Homo sapiens: one gene and its partner. Changing the gene in region 1 together with any one later gene gives a genetic interaction. Each region holds a gene or a part of one and is shown on either strand. Other genes may lie near its edges.

The links.
Region 2: changes in SETD1B (region 1) and SAP30 together harm fitness more than expected from each alone (negative genetic interaction), as found in Homo sapiens cells (one large-scale study listed by BioGRID).

What each region holds. Positions count from the first base shown.
Region 1 is NC_000012.12:121,817,374-121,821,189, forward strand, and holds part of SETD1B (histone-lysine N-methyltransferase SETD1B), read left to right. Parts: coding exon 1-331; intron 332-425; coding exon 426-531; intron 532-2,030; coding exon 2,031-2,522; intron 2,523-3,816. UniProt on the Homo sapiens protein: Histone methyltransferase that catalyzes methyl group transfer from S-adenosyl-L-methionine to the epsilon-amino group of 'Lys-4' of histone H3 (H3K4) via a non-processive mechanism.
Region 2 is NC_000004.12:173,373,638-173,378,032, forward strand, and holds the end of SAP30 (histone deacetylase complex subunit SAP30), read left to right. Parts: intron 1-301; coding exon 302-400; intron 401-3,567; coding exon 3,568-3,690; 3' UTR 3,691-3,895; downstream 3,896-4,395. UniProt on the Homo sapiens protein: Involved in the functional recruitment of the Sin3-histone deacetylase complex (HDAC) to a specific subset of N-CoR corepressor complexes. Capable of transcription repression by N-CoR.

The DNA of each region.
Region 1 (3,816 bases):
CGAGCGAGAGCGAGACCGGGATATGGCAGACACCCCCTGTGAGCTCGCCAAGCGGGACCCCAAGGGCGTGGGTGTGCGGCGGCGGCCGGCGCGGCCTCTGGAGCTGGACAGTGGTGGGGAGGAGGACGAGAAGGAGTCATTGTCGGCGTCCTCGTCCTCATCCGCGTCATCATCCTCGGGGTCCTCAACCACCTCACCCTCGTCCTCGGCCTCCGACAAGGAGGAGGAACAGGAGAGCACCGAGGAGGAAGAGGAGGCGGAGGAGGAGGAGGAGGAGGAAGTCCCCAGGAGCCAGCTCTCCTCCTCCTCAACCTCATCCACATCAGATAAGGTGCCTAGCAGGCCAGGAAGCCTCAGGGGGCCGGGCCAGGCGACGAGGGCCAGACCCTTCGGCTCACCTGTCCCCACTCTTCCTTCTCCCCCAGGATGACGACGATGACGACAGTGATGACCGGGACGAGTCTGAGAACGATGACGAGGACACAGCCCTGTCAGAGGCGAGTGAGAAGGACGAAGGGGACTCGGATGAAGGTGAGCAGGGAGGCCGTGGCTGCCTGGCCCTCCCGGAGTCCCTCTTTCCCCGGGGCAGAGCCTGAGCAATTGTCAGAAATACTTCTGAGCCAAAATGTTGTGCTTTTGAGACGTTACCTTGTTAAAACACACACACAGGGTGGCGTACGGTTCCATCTTCAGGGAGTGCCGTGAACATAATGGCATGTCCATAGAAATAGAAAGCAGGTCTGTGGTCCTTAGGGCTGGGGAGCCCGGTGTTCAGGGGGGCTTGCTCAGCCTACATGGCTTCCTTTTCAACTGATAAAAATACTTAGGGACCAGATCGAGGTGGTGGTTGTGCAACATTACAAATGTACTAAATGCTGCTGGAATTATCACTTTGTAACGAGCAGTTGGCCGGACGCAGTGGCTTACACCTGTAATCCCAGCACTTTGAGAGGCCTAGGCGAGTGGATCACCTGAGGTTAGGAGTTCGAGACCAGCCTGGCCAACATGGTGAAACCCCGTCTCTACTAAAAATGCAAAAAATAGCCAGGCGTGGTGGTGGGCACCTGTAATCCCAGCTACTTGGGAGGCTGAGGCAGGAGAATTGCTTGAATCCAGGAGGCAGAGGTTGCAGTGAGCTGAGATCATGCCACTGCACTCCAGCCTGGGTGACAGAGTGACACTCCACCTCAAAAAAAATAATAAATAAAATTTTTTTTACAAAGTGAGCAGTTTTTGGCTGGGCGCAGTGGCTCACGCCTGTAATCCCAGCACTTTGGGAGGCCAAGGCAAGTGGATCACGAGGTCAACAGATCGAGACCATCCTGGCTAACACGGTGAAACCCCGTCTCTAATAAAAATACAAAAAATTAGCCGGGCATGGTGGCAGGTGCCTGTAGTCCTAGCTACTCAGGAGGCTGAGGCAGGAGAATGGCGTGAACCCAGGAGGCGGAGCTTGCAGTGAGCCGGGATCGCCCCACTGCACTCCACCCTGGGCGACAGAGCGAGACTCCGTCTCAAAAAAAAAAAAAAAAAGTGAGCAGTTTTCTGTTATGTTAATTTTACCTCAGTTTTTAAAAGCGACTACTAGCGGCCGGGTGTGGTGGCTCACTCCTTTAATCCCAGCACTTTGGGAGGCTGAGGCAAGTGGATCACCTGAGGTCAGGAGTTTGAAACCAGCCTGGCTAACATGGTGAAACCCTGTCTCTACTAAAAGTACAAAATTAGCCGGGCGTGGTGGTGCATGCCTGTAATCCCAGCTACTTGGGAGGCTGAGGCAGGAGAATCGCTTGAACCCAGGAAGTGGAGGTTGCAGTGAGCCGAGATCGTGCCACTGCACTCCAGTCTGGGCAACAAGAGCAAAACTCAAAAAAAAGAAAAAAAAGACTCCTAGTGAACACATGCCCCACACACATATCTGAGGGCCGTGTTCAGCCTGGGTGCCACCAGTTTGAGGCCATTGGTGAGGGGTCTGGTGGGGGCTGGGGCACAGCGGGTCCTCAGGCAGCCCCTCGTCTGTGTCCCCCATCCAGAGGAGACAGTGAGCATTGTAACCTCCAAGGCCGAAGCCACGTCGTCCAGTGAGAGTTCCGAGTCTTCTGAGTTTGAGTCAAGCTCCGAGTCCTCGCCCTCATCCTCGGAGGATGAGGAGGAGGTAGTGGCCAGGGAAGAGGAGGAAGAAGAGGAGGAGGAGGAGATGGTGGCCGAGGAAAGCATGGCTTCTGCAGGCCCTGAGGACTTTGAGCAGGACGGGGAGGAAGCGGCTCTGGCCCCGGGGGCACCTGCAGTGGACTCGTTGGGCATGGAAGAGGAGGTGGACATCGAGACTGAGGCTGTGGCCCCTGAGGAGCGGCCCTCCATGCTGGACGAGCCCCCCTTGCCTGTGGGTGTTGAAGAGCCAGCGGACTCCAGGGAGCCGCCTGAGGAACCAGGCCTGAGCCAGGAAGGGGCCATGTTGCTGTCTCCAGAGCCCCCTGCCAAGGAGGTGGAGGCTCGACCCCCATTGTCCCCTGAGCGAGCTCCAGGTAACACCTGCAACCCCCTGGGAGGGTGGTGGGAGGGAGGCAGGAAGTCCTCACTGTCAGAATCAGCCCGGGCTTCCTGGGGTAGATCGCTGACCGTCCCCAGCCTCAGTTTCCCGTGTAAAACGAGATCAGCCGGTTGTGCCTCCCTCGAGCGAGATGAGGTGTTGGGTGCCAGCACTGAGCCTGGCACTGCATGGATCAACCCAAAGGGGAACGACTGCTATTTTTCAGTCCTCACTGCCAGCGTTTCCCTGGTGGCTTGGTCCTTGGACCATCAGTCCCATGAGATGCTCCCCAAAAGGAGGATGGGTGTCCATGGTCACTTGAGTGACAAGTCGGTGGGGTAGGCCCTGGGGTGCTGGGCCAGGTGAGGGCTGCAGGCATTGCCCCCTCCGGCATCGTGATGCTGCTGCACAGAGCATATGAGAACTCTAACTGCATGGCCAGTAGAACTTTCCACAGTGATGGCAGCGTTCTCAGGCTGTGCTGTCCAGCACTGTAGCCTTCAGACACAATGTTGCTACCAAACTCTTGAAACGTGGCCAGTGGCACAGTGGAACTGAATTTATAATAGTGTTCAATTTATTTTGGCTTACATAGATAGCTGCATGTGGTTAGCACCTACCTCTTTTTTTATTTTTATTTTTATTTTTTTTGAGACATAGTCCCGCTCTGTCACCCAGGCTGGAGTGCAGTGGCACGATCTCGGCTCACCGCAAGCTCCGCCTCCCAGGTTCACGCCATTCTCCTGCCTCAGCCTCCAGAGTAGCTGGGACTACAGGCACTCGCCACCACACCCGACTAATTTTTTGTATTTTTAGTAGAGATGGGGTTTCTCCGCGTTAGCCAGGATGGTCTCGATCTCCTGACCTCATGATCCACCCACCTCGGCCTCCCAAAGTGCTGGGATTACAGGCGTGAGCCACCATGCCCGGTCCTAGCACCTACCTTTAATAAGTCCTTCAGGAAAGGATTACAGCTGCCCCTGTACATTGAACACATGGCTAGGGCCCACGGACATGCAGTTTTCAACCAAATATGGACGGAAAAGACCGGTGGGATGCGAAACCCACTGTATATGGAGGGCGATCGCCTATACGTGGGTTCTGCAAGGCAGACTACAAGCTTTGAGTATGTGCAGATTTAGGTATACCAGGGAGTGTTAGAACCAATTCTCTGTGTGTATTGAGGGACGACTGTGTTTTGTTTAATGTAATGTATTTTGTTTTGTTTATTCCACCATTAACCACAGTCTTTGAACATTGACTCAATACTAAGCCTCTATTGTGTCCCT
Region 2 (4,395 bases), on another chromosome or scaffold:
AATTAAATATAGCCAGTTGACATGCATTTACACAGTTTGAATTGTTACATTTTAGATTGACAATTTTTGCAGCTCTGTTGTCACATAACTTACTCTTTTTTTGACCTCAGTTTATATTATTTATCCCCAAAAGATTAAATTCTTTAATAATTTATGTTGGATTATATAAATTTTTTAAATTTTTTTTGATTTTGGAAGTAAATTTTATTGTGCTGAAGTTAAAATGTTTGTTATTATACATATCAATGATAAATTTTCAACAAATTGTATGAACTCATTTATACATGTTAATTTTTTCTAGGTTGATTTATACCAATTACAAGTAAATACACTTAGGAGATACAAAAGACACTTCAAGCTACCAACCAGACCAGGACTTAATAAAGCACAACTTGTTGAGGTATATATGAGTTTTAAACTATTTGAACTATCTGCACAACCGAGAGGTTATTAAGTGCTAATGGAAGTTTTAATGTAGTGTATGTAACAGTACATTTTAATTAGAAAGAACAAAGTTAAAAAATCTGTTGTGGAAGAATCTAGTTGTGTAGAAATGTTTGTCTGCCACTTAGGAAATTCCTTTTTGTAATGACTGCTTAGTAGATTGTGTACAGCACCTTCTGATACTGGCTTTCAAAATGTGTTGATTGTTTTTTGAGACAGAATCTCACTCTGTCACCCAGGCTGGAGTGCAGTGGCATGATCTTGGCTCATTGAAACCTCTACCTACCAGGTTCAAGCAATTCTCCAGCCTCAGCCTCCCAAGTACCTGGGACTTCAGGTGTGCACCACCACACCAGGCTAATTTTTGTATAATATTTTTAGTAGAGATAGGGTTTCACCATGTTGGCCAGACTTGTTTCAAACTCCTGACTTCAAGTGATCTGCCCACCTCAGCCTACCAGAGTGCTGGGATTACCAGTGTGAGCCACCGTGCCTGGCCCTCAAAATGTTGAATGAGAGTTTTTTTAATCCTCACTTTAGAAATCTATTAATTTTAAAACTCCGTTTAACCAGTAAACATTTGAGCACCTAATTGAGGCATAATAAAATTAATTAACAAGCTTTAATGTCCTTATTAGAATTTATATTTTAAAGTGGTGGAATAGGCCTACAAATCAGACCCTAAACAGTATTTTTATAATTTGCTGACTTAACTATTTCAAAATTTGTCCTTGTTGATGTTTGTTTTATTAGAGACATCCATGTTTTTTTCACATCTAGAAGAGGCAAAAGCTTTTCTTTTACCCAAGCTTTTACTTGTAGTTTGCTTTGATAGAGGACTTCTAGTCAGTCACTGAGTTGTGAAAAGTTAACGGAGCATGCATATGTTTTCAGGATATAATAGAACCAAGAAATCTGTGCATCTTATTAAGATGTTTATAGATTTATATATATATATTTTAATCATATTTAAAATAAAAATTTTTACTTGCAGCTACTGAGGAGGATTGATTAAGCCTAGGAGTTTGAGTCACCATGGGCAACATAGCAACACTCCATCTCTAAAAAAAGAAAATTTGGCCTACTAGACAAAATAGAAGTGTAGAAATATAAATCAGTTTTCTCATATTCTTTGCATGGATTTAGTAGTTACCCAACATTTTCTAAAATGTGCCTATTGAATAAAATGAAATATGAATAGAAGTTACATTTATTTGGCAGAATGCTTTTTAACATTGTTAAAATCTAATATATTAACTATTTAGCTAAAATTTTTTATCCTTGGTTGGGCAACACAGATCTAATTAATTTTTCTTTAATTTTGATTTAAAAGATCAAGTTCTTTTGGGGTTGTACAATACATTAATGTAACATAAATATAGTTATTGCCCACCATGATGAAATATTTCAATAGGTACTAATGGAGTGAAGGCACCCCTGTTTTGGGACAAATGAGAACCAAAGAACTGATTATTTTAAATGTTATATTTAGGTATAAATTAAACCTGTAATTTTTGATAAACTGACCTTCTAAGAACAGTTATATTATTTCCAGAGCTATTTTCTTTTTTATACATAAGAGATAGCCATGAGTGTTATATTTTACTTAATCAGAAATGCAGATATTAGCAAGTTAAGGAATGTGCAGATGTAGTACATATATTTTAAGAGAGGGGTCCCCAACCCCAGGGCCATGGACTGGTACTGGTTGGTGGCCTGTTAGGAACGGGTCCGCAGAGCAGGAGGTGAGCACCAGCTAGCAAGCATTACTGCCTGAGCTCCGCCTCCTGTCAGATCAGCCACAGAATTAGATTCTCAGAGGAGTCCAAACCCTCTTGTGAAGTGCACATGTGAGGGATCTAGATTGTATGCTTGTTATAAGAATCTAATGCCTGATGATCTGAGGTGGAACAATTTCATACCAAAACCAACTCCGCCACCCTCAATCTGTGCAAAAATTGCCTTCCGTGAAATCTATCTCTGGTGCCAAAAAGGTTGGGGACCACTGTTTTAAGGGAATCCAGGGTTGTATGACTAAGTCTTAAGTCTCTTAATTATTGTGTGGATGAACTTTTTTCTTAAGAAATTTTATTTTCTGGAATCTAAATATGCATGTCAGCACCCCAGGTAAGTCTATTATTCTTCTATTAGTAATTGTAGTATGCATGTTATGTTAGCACAATGAAAAAGCAAGGAAGCAGGTAAACATCCTTCATTGAACATCCCTCTTTCTCCTCTCATTTCCATTCATAATTTTTATTCAGAAAAATTTTCAAGGAACCTTAACCAAAGAATGCTACCAAGGTGTGAATGAATGAATATAATTTGCAGCAAACAATTTATATGTTATTGTTGGTTTCTCTACTAGCAAAAGTTTTCAACTTCATACTTCTTTTTCTATCAGTAGAGTCTAAACCATTGCAGGTTTAATGATGCATGTGATCTCTTACGTCTGTTTTATCTCATTTAAAGTTTAAAAGTAAAATCATTTATTCCCTATTCTAGATTCTAATTATAAAATTTATTATTTTTATTTTATTTATTTATCTTTTTTTGAGACAGAGTCTTGCTCTGTTGCCCAGGCTGAAGTCCAGTGGCATGATCTCAGCTCACTGCAACCTCCACCTTCTGGGTTCAAGCAATCCTCCTGTCTAAGCCTTCTGAGTAGCTAGGATTACAGGTGTACACCACCAGGCCTATCTAATTTTTGTATTTTTTTTGGTAGAGATGGGGTTTCGTCATGTTGCTCAGGCTGGTCTCAAACTCCTGGGCTCAAGTGATCCACCCACCTCTGCCTCCCAAAGTGCTGGGATTACAGGCATGAGCCACCACGCCTGGCCCAATTATAAAATTTAAAATAAATAAAAGGAAAATATATTTTCTAATCAATGTATATTAAATTGAGTGGGTCAAAGGGTCCTTTGAAATCACACTATCTCTTGTTCGTAACATTTTATTCTTGAATGCTTTCTGTCTTGTTGATATTTTGTTAAATATAATTTTTAAAGGAAATAGCCCTTATCACATAGCACTTTTTCTTTTGATGAAACCGTATTTTTTACGTAGTTTATGAAACCTGTTATATCTAAAATTTAATTTCCTTAATTTTTCTTTTCTTTGTAGATAGTTGGTTGCCACTTTAGGTCTATTCCAGTGAATGAAAAAGACACCTTAACATATTTCATCTACTCAGTGAAGAATGACAAGAACAAATCAGATCTCAAGGTTGATAGTGGTGTTCACTAGGAGACGTGGAATTGAGACTAATAACTTGGATGTTAACACTGTTTACTGTTTTTTCACATGTAGAAATGTTCTTTGTGTATTTTTTCTACAGAGGATTTTCTCTGATTTTATTTTCTTTGTTTCTGACTCTAATAATTAGTTGGAAACTCATATAAAATGAGCTTTCCTAAATTAAATCTATTTTAAATAAAGGTTATTACTATTATAGTTGCTTCAGTGTATTTATTTTGTGAAACTTGATTTTTCTTTTAAACTGACTAAGAGATCAGTATTGAGATTTTAATGTAAAGTCCTTCATTTTGTAATCCTTTTTTTTTTTTTTTTTTAAACTTCCAAGAAATTAACAGGGTAAGGAGAAGTAACAAATGTAGCACATTTGCATTCTCTGGGACAATCTGACTTGGAAGTGAAGATAATCTAAATAGCATTATTTTTTAAAGTGCTTTATAGGGCTAGCAAATTTGAAAAATAAACTTCTCTTGGAATGCAACTTCTTTTTTATTTCCTTTTTTTTGTTATTATTACTTGATGAAGTACTAGGAAGAACAAATGGTTTAATTTATATACCCACCTCCTTCCAAAGAAGACTTAATGTGCCAGCAAAGATAAACACAATGCTGAAAGTTGAAATAAGAGTATAAAATTAAATAGCTGTTTTTCAAAATTTTGTCTTCGAGAAAAGATATTTATGTGGCATGAATATAG